Linked DNA regions of Homo sapiens: regions 1 and 2 are each linked to region 3. Evidence: fine-mapped expression QTL. A gene starts in region 3. Each other region holds a variant in brackets. All regions are shown on one strand. Distances are from middle to middle.

Evidence for each region. PIP is the estimated chance that this variant, and not a neighbour inherited with it, causes the effect.
Region 1: its variant is the best candidate, but not a certain one, in a credible set for the expression of TNRC6A in whole blood (TOPMed, PIP 0.58).
Region 2: its variant is the best candidate, but not a certain one, in a credible set for the expression of TNRC6A in whole blood (TOPMed, PIP 0.79).

Annotation. Positions count from the first base shown.
Region 1 is chr16:24,808,867-24,813,000 of GRCh38, reverse strand. TNRC6A (trinucleotide repeat containing adaptor 6A) reads right to left here. Exons shown (of 25, transcript NM_014494.4): 18 at 3,520-3,651. Among named protein-coding and RNA genes, the nearest start is that of SLC5A11, 35 kb to the left of the region's middle. The variant T/C (reference allele first, on the strand shown) is at 1,810.
Region 2 is chr16:24,801,097-24,805,351 of GRCh38, reverse strand. TNRC6A (trinucleotide repeat containing adaptor 6A) reads right to left here. Exons shown (of 25, transcript NM_014494.4): 12 at 1,033-1,175; 13 at 501-647; 14 at 201-338. Among named protein-coding and RNA genes, the nearest start is that of SLC5A11, 43 kb to the left of the region's middle. The variant G/C (reference allele first, on the strand shown) is at 1,615.
Region 3 is chr16:24,727,401-24,731,655 of GRCh38, reverse strand. It overlaps TNRC6A (trinucleotide repeat containing adaptor 6A), which reads right to left and starts at 2,005. Exons shown (of 25, transcript NM_014494.4): 1 at 1,810-2,005; 2 at 1,356-1,403. The coding sequence starts at 1,814. RefSeq lists a silencer at 1,667-1,976.

The DNA of each region.
Region 1 (4,134 bases), 81 kb before region 3:
GGGAGGCTGAGGTGGGGGGGTCATCTGAGTCTGGGAGGTCAAGGCTGCAGTGACCTGAGATTGTGCCACTGCACTCCAGCCTCGGCAACTGGGGTCTCAAAAAAAAAAAAAAAAAAAAAAAAAGCCCAAGAGGTACTATTAATTCCATTTGGCAGATGAGGGACCTCAAGTTCAGAAAGGTTAAGTTACTTGCCAAGTAGCTAATTGCACTCACGTGTCACTTAACAGGGCTACACTTGGAGAAACTAGGCAATTTCATTTTTGTGTGAACATCAGAGTGCCCTTACACAAACCTAGATGGTAGAGCCCACTACACAGCAGAGCCCTATGGCCTAGCCTACTGCTCCTAGGCTACAAACCTACAGTGTGTTACTGTACTGAGTAATGTAGGCAACTGTAACAGAAGGGTGTATCTAAACATAGCTAAACAGGAAAGGTACAATAAAACATGGTATTATAAGCTCAATGGACCCACTACTGGATATATGGCCCATTGTTTACTGAAACATTGCCATTAAGTGGTGCATGACTGGAATAACAGAGTCAATTAGTAGCAGAGCTAGGTCTCGAACCTAGGATTCATATTTATTTTGCCATTTCCCCATTGTCTCAACTCCCTGTTCTCTCTCTTCAGGTCAGAAAAATTCCGGGCTGGGCCTGGTGGCTAACGCCTATAATCTCAGCACTTTGGCAGGCTGAGGCAGGCAGATCACCTGAGTTCAGGAGAACGAGACCAGCCTGGCCAACATGGTGAAACCCTGTCTCTACTAAAATTACAAAAATTAGCCGGGTGTGGTGACACACACCTGTAATCCCAGCTATACTCAGGAGGCTGAGGCACGAGAACCACTTGAATCCCAGAGACGAGGGTTGCAGTGAGCAGAGATTTGCATCACTGCACTCCAGCCTGGGTGACCGAGTGAGACTCTGTCTCAAAAAAAAAAAAAAAAAAAAAAAAAAAAAAAAAAAAAAAAAAAAAAATCCCAAAGTGACATTCCCCTGAACGGCAAACGAACTTAGAATCAAAGGTCTGTTTGGTTTATGGTCTAGCGGTTCCTTCTATTACACGACAATTTTAATTTCTGAAAATCATTAGTCCAATGTGTACAATCTAGAAATCTGACCCTAAAGTTTAGTTAATAAACTTTCAAAGTAAAATTCAATAGAAAAAAAAGAATGTCACAAAAATATCATTTTACTAGCAATCATACATTTGAGGCTGCTTAAGCTAGAATCACCAAGCCCTGTCAATTCCACTTCCTCCACAGCTCCTGGATAATGACTATACTAGATCTACTCCAATTCTCCACACTGCACCCAGAGGCATCATTCGAAAGTGCAAATCTGATCATGTCATCTCCTGGCTTAGTACTCTCCAACATACAAAAGGCAATGTTCAAATTCTTCAAGTTTATAAGGCTCTTAAAATTCTAGCCCCGCTCCATCTCTCATCGTTTCCCCTCCCTTCACCTCTGCCTGCCTGACTTCTGTTTATCTTTCATATCTCAGCTTCAGAGATCACAGGCCTCCTAGAAGCCTTGCCCAACTGCCTCCAACCAAGGCTAAAATAAAAAATCTCCTTCTATACATGTCACCAAATCCGTCTGGGTGCTGAGATGAAGGGATTTTATAAACTGCCTGGAAGTCACAGAATCTTAGGCCCATAGAGTATCTGAGACATCCAGTTTAACCCTTCTGTAATGCAGAACTTCCTAGTCAAATGTCCTTGCCTCCACTCCCCTTAACAAATCAGACTTTTCTTACTGTAGGTGTGCAGTGTGCAGCTAAGGGTTAGCATGGCAGACTGGA[T/C]TGCACATTCCAAAGTGTGCCAGGACCGTCGCCTGTTCAGCTCCTGTGCTCCTCCAAGCCCATGGACTACTCTGCCAGCTAAGAGTGCCTCTGCATGCCTTACACCTAGGCCACTCTAATGATATGATTTACGGCGAACACCTATTCTTTTCTGCCTGCGACTCGGGTCCGTCCTGTATTTGTCTGACCTCTGAGGGGTCTGTCTGGAGAGGGCTGGAGACTGACTAGCTGATCAGTTATGCAAGTGTTTCAGGCTTACACTGCTGAATGAAAGAATGAGTTAAGTGAGTTACCAAGCTTTTCTGCTTTTAATTTTTGAAACTCTCTTGCAGTGTACTCCCTCTCATGTCCACTGACCTTTCTCTCTCTTACCTAGACTACTTTAAGTCTTAACTGCCTCTAGGCACCCATCATTTTCATGTTTAAAATCATTCTTGGCACAAGTTTTCCATGATTTGCACCACACCTACTATTCCATCTTCATCTACCTCTTTTCTGTCATTTGCACCTTCACCCCCAGATATGCCGAGATACAGAATTCACCAGGCAGTCCTCTTTGAACCCTGCATGCACTATTCTTTCTTGGTTGCTCTTCCTGTTTGTGTGGTAAACTTACTCTTCTCAAGGTAAGTCTTTTTCACCTTTCTAGACCCACCACACCTGCAGTTATTCCTGACTCAATGCTCCTAAGGAACTTGGTATTATTAAACTATTATAAATATTAACTTTGATATTACCTATTATATTGTACTAAAGCTGCTGACATACTTTCGTTCACAATGAACAATTCCAGGGCAAGTAATTTTACGTATATACATACATACATACATTCAACTGTAAGCATGTATGTACATTGTGTCTATGTATTCCAGGTGCTAACATAGCCTTGGAAAGCAGAAGATACTCGATTAATATTTGCTGGGTGAATGGATAATACTAAATAAGATGAAAACGGCATTTCTAAAAAAAATTTAATTGCTGAAAAGACAATACTGTTAAATCCATATGACTTACACATAGCAATAAGCTATATAAAGAAATGTGTCCATATATAAGGAATTGATAGAAATAAAATTATGGGCCAGGTGCAGTAGTTCACACCTGTAATCGCAGCACTTTGGGAGACCAAGGCAGATGGATCACCTGAGGTCAGGAGTTTGAGACCAGCCTGGCCAGCATGATGAAACCCTGTCTCTACTAAAAATACAAAAATTAGCCGGGCATGGTGGCTCAGGCCTGTAATCCCAGCTACTCAGGAGGCTGAGGTAGGAGAACTGCTTGAACCCGGGAGCAGAGTTTTCAGTGAGCTGAGATCATGCCAATGCATTCCAGCCTGGGTGACGGAATGGGACCCTGGTAGAAGTTTTAAATGTCCTAAGAACATATCAAATTAAATCCAGTAAATGTTAATAAGTGTAATAATATAAGAATAAAATCACTTAGAAAAATGTAAAAAGCCAAAGAGAAAATAATTTTTAAACATGTATCATCTGATCTCTCCTTTATAAAACAGAGTAGAGGTAAATTCTGCTTTTCATCTGAAAGTCTCTTATTGTAACTAAGACTTAATAACAACTTTTTTTAAATGAGGAAAAGTTCTAAGATAATTTGGCTTTGAAAACACATTTAAAATAAAATAAAGGCCTAAATCTAGTATTCTGCAGGTGTGTGTGTTTTTTTTTTTTTTTTGGTAAGATGTATCTTTTGTACCATGTTTGCTGGAGTTTTGATCCAAAGATGTGTTCACAGAAATGCTGTCCACTGTCGTCCACTTCCTTAGTCTTGACTGTGGCTCTTTAATACTGTTCATATCCATATTTACATTCAAGTTTGAGTTCAAGCCTGAAAAATTAAAAAACAAAACAAAACCTTAGAAAATACAGCACATTTTCTTTCTAGTAGCACAACTTCTATTTCCTAGAAAAACATGTAACTAATGTTTTCAAACCACATAACTGTTAATACTATAATTTAGTTATACGTAGAAAATATTTCTCCATAAAATTTTGATGATTTATTTAAAACTCCTTGGCAAAATAAGAGGGAGAAAAGTTTTAAGGAAGCCAGATGTATAAGTTTACTTGGAATAAAATGTATCTGTTTAGCTATTTCCCAAGTGTACCTATGCATGAAGATCTGTGGTCACTTTCAGTTGCTATCTTTTGCTTGCAAATTCTAAAGTAAAAATGTCCTGTACTAGCAATTACACCTAGGCTGGGGACAGATATATCTTAAGGCACAATTTACTTGACCTTTGCTGATGAGGCCCCTCAGACTTGGATATTCTCTTGGAACAAGAATGGAAATTTCAACCTTAGATACAGT
Region 2 (4,255 bases), 74 kb before region 3:
AAGAAAATGGTAAATTTTGGATTTAAATTATCCTTGACTTTTCCTTACTACAACCTTTTTTAATAGTTAATTCAAAACTAGCTGAATCTCAAAGATGCCAATAAATATGATAATGCTTAGTTAGCCATTTTATTCAAATACAAAATCATGCAAGATCCTTTTTGCAGGTAAACAGGAGAATGTAAGGAAAGCTTATTTACCTGAGGGGAGAGTAATGGAGGAGGCACTTGAGCACGGAGATTAGGCTGAGATGAACTAAGAGGTTGTGCTGGAGGCTGCTGCATGCCCCGGGGTTGTGCTGCTGTGTTTCCAACACCAAACATACTGGGATTGCCATTCTATAAAAACAAACAGCAACAAGTAACAGTGGGATTCTTTAGGGACAAACATCTCATTACCACACTGTACTATGATTTAAACACAGTAACTACATGTAAGAGAGATCTTATTACTAATACAAATCATTCAACTGAGAGCCTAAAATACACATCTGGACTTACCTGTCTAACAGAATTCAAGTTTTGCATACCCAGCCCTGCTATGGAGCCAAGGGCCTGGTTAGGTAGTGCACTATTTGAAGGGGGAAGCTTCATGCTTTGACTGGACATAAACTGCATGTTTTGGGATTCATCTGCTACAATGCCATCCTGATTGGACAGACAGAAAGATGTGCAACACCAGCCAAGCAAACAAGTGGAAGGGAGAAATCATTGCAGGAACAGAAGAGAAGTCACATGACATTCCAGCATCAACAGGAAACAGGTAGAAAACAGAAGAGATCGGATTAGTGTTAATTCTAGAGCACACAAAAAGAGCCAAACATATTTCATGGGATTAAGAAGAAAAATATAAATGCAACCTCTATGATAAATTGAGACATAAAAAGACAGTGAACTTCAAAATCCAGTAATAAGATTTGGTAGTGGATTGTAACACTTTATATTATATAAAAGGTTTTAAAATATTAGTGTGAAAATTACGCTATGAAGTATACTGGTTTATCAAGTCAGAGGTAAAAGTAAAAAACCTTACCTTATCAAAATAAGGATTGCGCTCCATGGAAGACTCTTTGGAAATCTGAGGCCGAGAACCAGGGCCTTTCCCGACCGTTCGATTGTAATCACCAATATTTAGGCTATGTTTATCTATCTCCATTCGTTTGTCTTGTAACATTCCTAATAAAGGCAGGAGACTGTTATCAAACAGGAAGACAACCCAATTGGTTTCAGATAAATTTACAACAAAAGCAAAACACTCACTTTCCAAACTGAAATGACTTCAGCCAAGACAAGGGTATGTGAAAAATACACTTCCATTTCATAAATTTTGCATTCCTCACAAATGAAGTCGCAATTAGGAGATACTGTTATTTTACTGAAATAATTAACTTGAAATAGACTAGTAAACAGAAGGTGGCTGGCTGATAACCTCACTTTTTTTTTCTTTTTTATTTTAGACAGTCTCGCTTTGTGGCCCAGGCTGGAGTGCAGTGGTGGGATCTCGGCTCACTGCAACCTCCACCTCCTAGATTCAAGCAATTCTCATGCCTCAGCCTCTCGAGTAGCTGGGATTACAGGAGTGTACCACTACACCTGACTATTTTTTGTATTATTA[G/C]TAGAGATGTAGGTTTCTCCATGTTGGCCCGGCTGGTCTTGAACTCCTGACCTCAAGTGATCCGGCCGCTTCGGCCTCCCAATGTGCTAGGATTACAGGTATGAGCCACCAGGCCCGGCCTCGTTTTAAAAGGACTCTTAGGTTACATAACTTAAGGCACCTTTAGCCATCTCTAATCTGCTGAGTTTTATAATACAGGTAAGTTTCCATTAACAAGTAATAAAAACAATCAACACCCACTGTGATAAACCACCATTTAATAAATGCCTGGTTTATGTCAGTCGCCATTATAAGTGCTTTTTCTTTTCTTTTTTTTTTTGAGAAGGGGTCTCACTCTGTAGCCCAGGCTAGAGTGCAGTGGTGTGATCTTGGCTCACTGGAACCTCTGCCTCCCGGGTTCAAGCAATCCTCCTGCCTCAGCCTCCTGAGCAGCTGGGATTACAGGCACCCACCACCACACCCAGCTAATTTTTTTATTTTCAGTAGAGACAGGGTTTCCCCATGTTGGCCAGGCTGGTCTCAAACTCCTGACCTCAGGTGATCTGCCTGCCTTGGCCTCCCAAAGTGCTGGATTTACAGACGTGAGCCACCGCACCTGGCCTATGAATGCTTTATGTGTACTAATTTAATGTTTGTAACTCTACTGTTATCGCCCTTTTAGCAGATGAGGAAACTGGACACCAGACAGGGTAACATCTTCCCCTCTCTTAGGCTTTGCTCTGTCTGCTCCTCTCCTCATTCTGACTGCTCTGCAATAAAAAATGATCTTCTCTCCTGGAAACTTTTTTCCTGCAAAATCTTTGCTGGATATAGCCAGCTCCGGCCCAAAAGCTACTGCTCTATTTCAACAAATCTTTTAAAAGTGGACAATGCTCTCTACCACCCCTCCTCACCATCTGTCCATTCTGGTTTCTCTTCCTCTACCCATGCTGAGCTCACCTCGGGTGCTTCTTCAATGCTGGGATACTCTGCGGCTGACAAAGTAGACTCAGGGTCTCAGTCTTTTGACTCTCTCTGTAAACTTGCTTTCCTTAGACTTCATTCACTATCAGGGTATCAGCAGTCACTCCCATTCAAGTGATGCCCAAATATAAACATGTTGCTTAGACTTCACAACTGAGCTCAGTCCCACATTTTTACCTGCCTGCTAAAGCACATCCATTTCGATGTCCCATTGTCACTTTTTTTTGAGACAGTGTCTGGCTCTGCTGCCCAGGCTGGAGCGTAGTGGCACAATCTTGGCTCACTGCAGCCTGTGCCTCCCCGGCCCAAGCAATCCTCTCACCTCAGCTTCCTGAGTAGCTGGGCCCAGAGGTATGTACCACCACCCCCAGCTAATTTTTGCATTTTTTTGTAGAGACAAGGCTTCACCATGTTGCCCAAGCGGTCTCCAACTCCTGACCTCAAGTCATCTGTCCACCTCGGCCTCCTGAAGTGCTGGGATCACAGTCATGAGCCACTGTGCCCGGCCTCATTGTCACTGTTAACACAGGTTTTCATCTCCCTATTCCTCATTCTTGACGTTTTCTCAATCCTCAAATCTCATCCATCATTTCTTTGCAACTGCTGTTCTTTGAGATGTCTGCCACCACCATAATACTTACCTTTACTACTCTCATTCCAGGTAAGTGGAAAAGGAAAACAATTCTTAAAGTAGCTAAGAAGTACTGTTCCAGTCATGAATCTGGTATTTAAAAAATCCACCTTTCACAGTTGTTTAAGAGCCCTCTCTTGAATGTCAATAATCCTTACCACAGCTCCCTCCTCTGTTCTCTCTCCCTGTTAAGATGTCATAATTCACTGATAACAACTAAGCTAGCCATTGTGAACTCTTTCCCCCACTCTCTTCATCTAATCCTGTAACCAATTCCAACCAGTTCTCCTAACTCTCTCTCCAAGCTGTTCCTTCTTGATAATTCACATTATTTTTGCCTATGCAAATACCTTTTGAAAGAGTAGTAGCAGCTGAGCACGGTGGCTAACACTTGTAATCTCAGCGCTTTGGGAGGCCGAGGCAGGCAGGAGTTTGCGACCAGTTTGGCCAACACGGTGAAACCCTGTCTCTACTAAAAATACAAAAAATTAGCTGGGCGTGGAGGCAGGAGAATCGCTTGAACCTGGGAGGCAGAGGTTGCAGTGAGCCGAGATTGCGCCACTGCACTCCAGCCTCAGTGAGACTCCAACTCAAAAAAAAAAAAAAAAAAGAGAGTAGCATGTTACATTTTTTCCACAAACCATTCTCCAACACTTCTGCATCCCTTTAAAAAGAAACTCAAATGTGGCAATCTCCCCTCAGTCCACCAGTCCTCCAGTAAGGTCCATTAGTTACCAATGACTACCCCTGAGCCCCACTGTCAAATCCATTCCCTGACAATCAGTTTTTTCTTTTCAAAACTCTGTACTCACTTGGCGTCTGAAAAATTATTCTACTCTAACTTGTCCCACTTCTGCTTAGGATCACTCCCCTAAATGCCATTATTCCCCAGGACTGTCTTCGGTCCATTATCCTCCAACTCTCTCTAGTCAAACTATTCCTATAGCTTACACTATCATCCACATCTAATTAATTACACTTCATATCACCAGCCCCATCTATTCTGAGCTTCACATCCAGATTTTCGACTGTTTACTGGACCAGGTG
Region 3 (4,255 bases):
CAGACCTCTAAGCTCTGTTCTGCTGATATTACACCTTAATGGCTCAACCTGTTTTCTTTAATGGTTTCATATCTTAACATTTCCTTACTAGATTTTGACAAAATTTATGTAAATATACCACAAATAGTCAGTGATGTCAGACTTAATTTCCTTTAAATGATCCCATAATTATTTTGAGTAACAGAGAATCCCTTACTGGGTAAACCAATGATGCCTATCCTTCACCATCTGAACACATTCTTTAACGATCACCTGAACAGATTAGTATCTTATGAAACTCAATAGGCCAGCAATTTGGAACAATTCTACGCGGTGCAAAATATTCAGACGATTTGAAATGTGAGTGTTAAAAACCCCAATGTAAACCTAAAACCCGCAATCATCAAGAGCAAACTACATTAAAACCTGAGATAGGAGAAATTTCATTTTATTTTCAACAAGTGAAAAAAAAGAAAAAAAGAAAGCTATTCACGGATTTGGTTAATTGGCTAAGTTTCCCTGAGTGTCCCAATATGATGCAAAAGAAAAAGGGGAATAAGAAAGGAAAAGACGGTAGGAAAGAAAATGAATGTGAAAAGGAGTTAAATACAGTACAATTCCTTGATGCTTAAGCAATTACAGCTCAATGAAGCTAAATATTTCCATTCCATAAAGACATCGTTTAAAAAAAAAAAAAAATTCTCCCTTCACGGTGATGCAAAAGCAGCAGGGCCCAACAGGAACGATAACCTCTTCTGGAGAAAAGATTTTTAATTATTTTACCAGCTGATAAAAAGAGCACACACCGAACATGGACAGAAATGGAGTTTCGAAGGAAAACAAAACGCAGCTTATGCTTGGTAAAGTTCAAGGACAAAACTGTGTCCAATGCAACAGAATCCGCCTGACTACAATGTATGGGGGGGGGGGGGGGGCGGGGGGGAATGCGAACACATAGTATCTTTTTATAAAAGCAACAATTTGAGCTACAAAGTAATAACGGGGAAGCCAAAACAGTTTGACAGCCCGCCATAAGGGCCGCCTCAATCATGAGTCACACAATGCCTGCAACCATTTACAATAGTAATTAATGCACAAGTCCCCTAATTAAATTCTAAAAGGGTGAGAATGCTTTAACTAAGTTTACAAGAATTGCTTTGCGCTTTTTTTTTTTTTTTTTAAAGAAAGAAACACACGCGTAATTACGCATCTCCCCGCAATCCCTCCAGTATTCCCCCAGGCCGCTTCTCCCGAATGTCTGCTCTCCGGGTGCGGAAGAAAATGTCACGGGGGAACTTCTCAACCCAGAAAAGGCGAATCGGAGTAGAAATATACGATTATCGTGGGGCGGGAGACGGAAAGCTCGCCCATCTTACCTGCTAAGATTTCTTTCTACGTCTTTGGTAGCTTTAGCTTCCAATTCTCTGAAACAAAAAAACAAAAACAAAAACAAAACAAAAACACACACACAAAAACGAGATGCGCGTGAAAACGGAGCTGCTGCGGCAGAGGCTCGCGCCGGGGCCGGATGGGGGAGGGGAGAGGACGGGGGGAGGGGGACTCACAAAGCTGCGGGGCTGCAGCCCGGACTGCGGTCCCGCGGCGCGGGCGAGGCGCAACCCCGGCCTGGCCCCCGCGGCGCGGCGCAGCGAGGCTCCCCCGGGCCGCCCGCTCGGCCTCCGCAGCAACGCAGCCTGCGCCCTCCCGCCGAGGCCCGAAGTCTCGGGGACGCCCGGCGCCGCCGCCTCTGCTGCCGCCGCCGCGGGTTGCGGGCCCTGCGGCAGCGCCCGCGGCTCCTCCCGCCCGGAGGGAGGCCCTTGTTCCGCTCACCTCATGTGTGTAAAGTGCACGAGCAAGTGGGGCGCGGCGAAGGAGGCTCGCGAGCCTCAAGCCCTCCGCAGCGCCGCGGGGAGAGGCCCGAGCCGCTGCACCAGCGCCATTTTCTACACCGACCCGCTGCCGCCGCCGCCGCCGCCGCCGCCGCCGCCGCCGACACCGCCGCCGCCGCAGGCCCCAGACCGGAAGTGAATGCCCCACTCGGCAACCCCTTCCGGGGGCGCCACGGCCACTGGCCCCCAAGATGGAGGCCCTAGCAACTGGACCCGCAGATTGGGCAGGTCCTTGGCAACCGCCCCGGCGTGTCACGCTGCACCCAGCCGGACCTCCCTGGAGGTCACAGCCTCCGAGGCGCCCCGCGGAGTGGCTGGGGGGGCCTGCGGAGTCCCGAGTCCAACCTTTTTCGGTGCGGCCGGCTCCGGTCTGACCGAGGAGGGGAGTCCCTCCCCTCCTCCTCCTTCTTTGCTGCGACACAAGTTTCCTACCCGCCGCCCGGCCCCTCCCCCACTGACACACGCCAAAAAAAAAAAAAAAAAAAATTGCCTAAAACGCAAATTTTACCCCAACTGCAGCCTGATGAGCCCGCGCGGCTTTTGAATTCAGCCACTTCTAATTATTTTTGACCTTGGGCCAGTTATTTAACCTCTCTGCTTCTCTGTTCCTCCTCAGGTAAAGAATGCATACCTGAGGCGGGTTGTGAGGCTTAAAAGCGATTTTTATCCACCGACCTTTGACTCAGCAGTTCCGCCTGCACGGATTTTCTGCTCAGGAAATAATTCTGGGTATCTGCAAATATTTCACCTTCGAGATACTAAGCTGTGGTATTGATGATGGTGAAAAATTGCAAACAGCCAAAATGTCCAGCGCTACTAGATGGCTTCAAAAACAGCTACTGGCATGTATTAGGACACTGTAAAAATGATGTGGAGGAATAATCCCGGCATGGAGGAAATGGTTGCAATAGAATAAATGAAAAAGCAGGTTCCAACGTAGCTCACACAGTAAGAAACATCTTAGTGTAGACACAGTAAGATACATACATGTAGATAGACTAAGATATGTATATATGTAGACACAGATGCATATGTGTACATTAAAAGTATACATACATACCTACATGTAGATACAATAAGACATACATATCTGCAGGTAGATACAACAATACACATACATGTAGATACAGTAAGATACATATTTTCACTTGCGTGTGTTCTTTCCAACCTCTCATCAAGCTTTTTCTTCTAATTTAAAGATAATTCCTCCTCTGTGCTTAAAATCTATAACCTTTACTTTCTCAGAAACCCCACTCTGTGGATCATCCCATTCTCCTTTTTCTAACCTAAGTTCTTCAACTGGCTTTTTTTTTTATTTTTTTATTATATTATCATTTTTTTTAGGCGGAGTCTCGCTCTGTCTCCCAGGCTGGAGTGCAGTGGCGCGATCTCCGTTCACCGCAACCTCCGCCTCCCGAGTTCAAGCAATTCTCCTGCCTTAGCCTCCCAAGTAGCTGGGATTACAGACACGCACCACTGCGCCTAGCTATTTTTGTATTTTTAGTAATGACGGGGTTTCGTCATGTTGGCCAGGCTGGTCTTGAACTCCTGACCTCAGGTGATCGCCCCCCTCGGCCTCCCAAGGTGTTGGGATTACAGGCGTGAGCCACCGCGCCCAGCTTCAACTGGCTTTACAACATGCTTGAATCTCTCCCGTTAAAAACAAACAAAACTTCCCTAGACATGTTGGGTTCCTGTCCTCTCCGATAGGTTAAGCTAGTGAATGAATGCACAGAAAGTCATGAAACATATGCACCAAAACGTTAACTGATTATGACTTTTTTTCATTTTCTTCTTTTAGTGTATCTGTTTTTTTCTTTTTTGCGATGAGCATATAAAAAACACTTTTTTGAAAAAAAAAATCAGGTTTACAAAATATAAAATGTAGTGGGCACCGAATAAATGCTAGTGACTTTCCTTTTCCTGCTATCATCCCTGAGGTTCATTTACCTACACACATATTTGTTTTTCTTTCATAATCCTTTCTACTTAAAATGTTTAAAAGTTACTATGGTGTTTCATTAGGAGTTTAAAAATATGAACATATACGTAATGGCACAATATGCTTTCATACCAGGTTTAGGAATAATTTTTCACAACAACATAAGGCAATGAAAACAGTCATATTTATCAACATTTGCACAGCTGTTAAGATTGGCTGATTTTTTTTTTATTAGACTTTTTTAGGTTTTAATGACTCAGTGATTCTTAATTGGGACAATGTTGCCCCCATCCCTACCCCTGGGGACATTTAGCAATGAACTTTTTGGTTGTCACACTGGATGCTACTGATTGGTATCTGATAGCTACAGACCAGGGATTCTACTAAATATTCTACGATGCGTAGGACAGTCCCCTACAACACGGGAGTATCTGAACCAAAATGC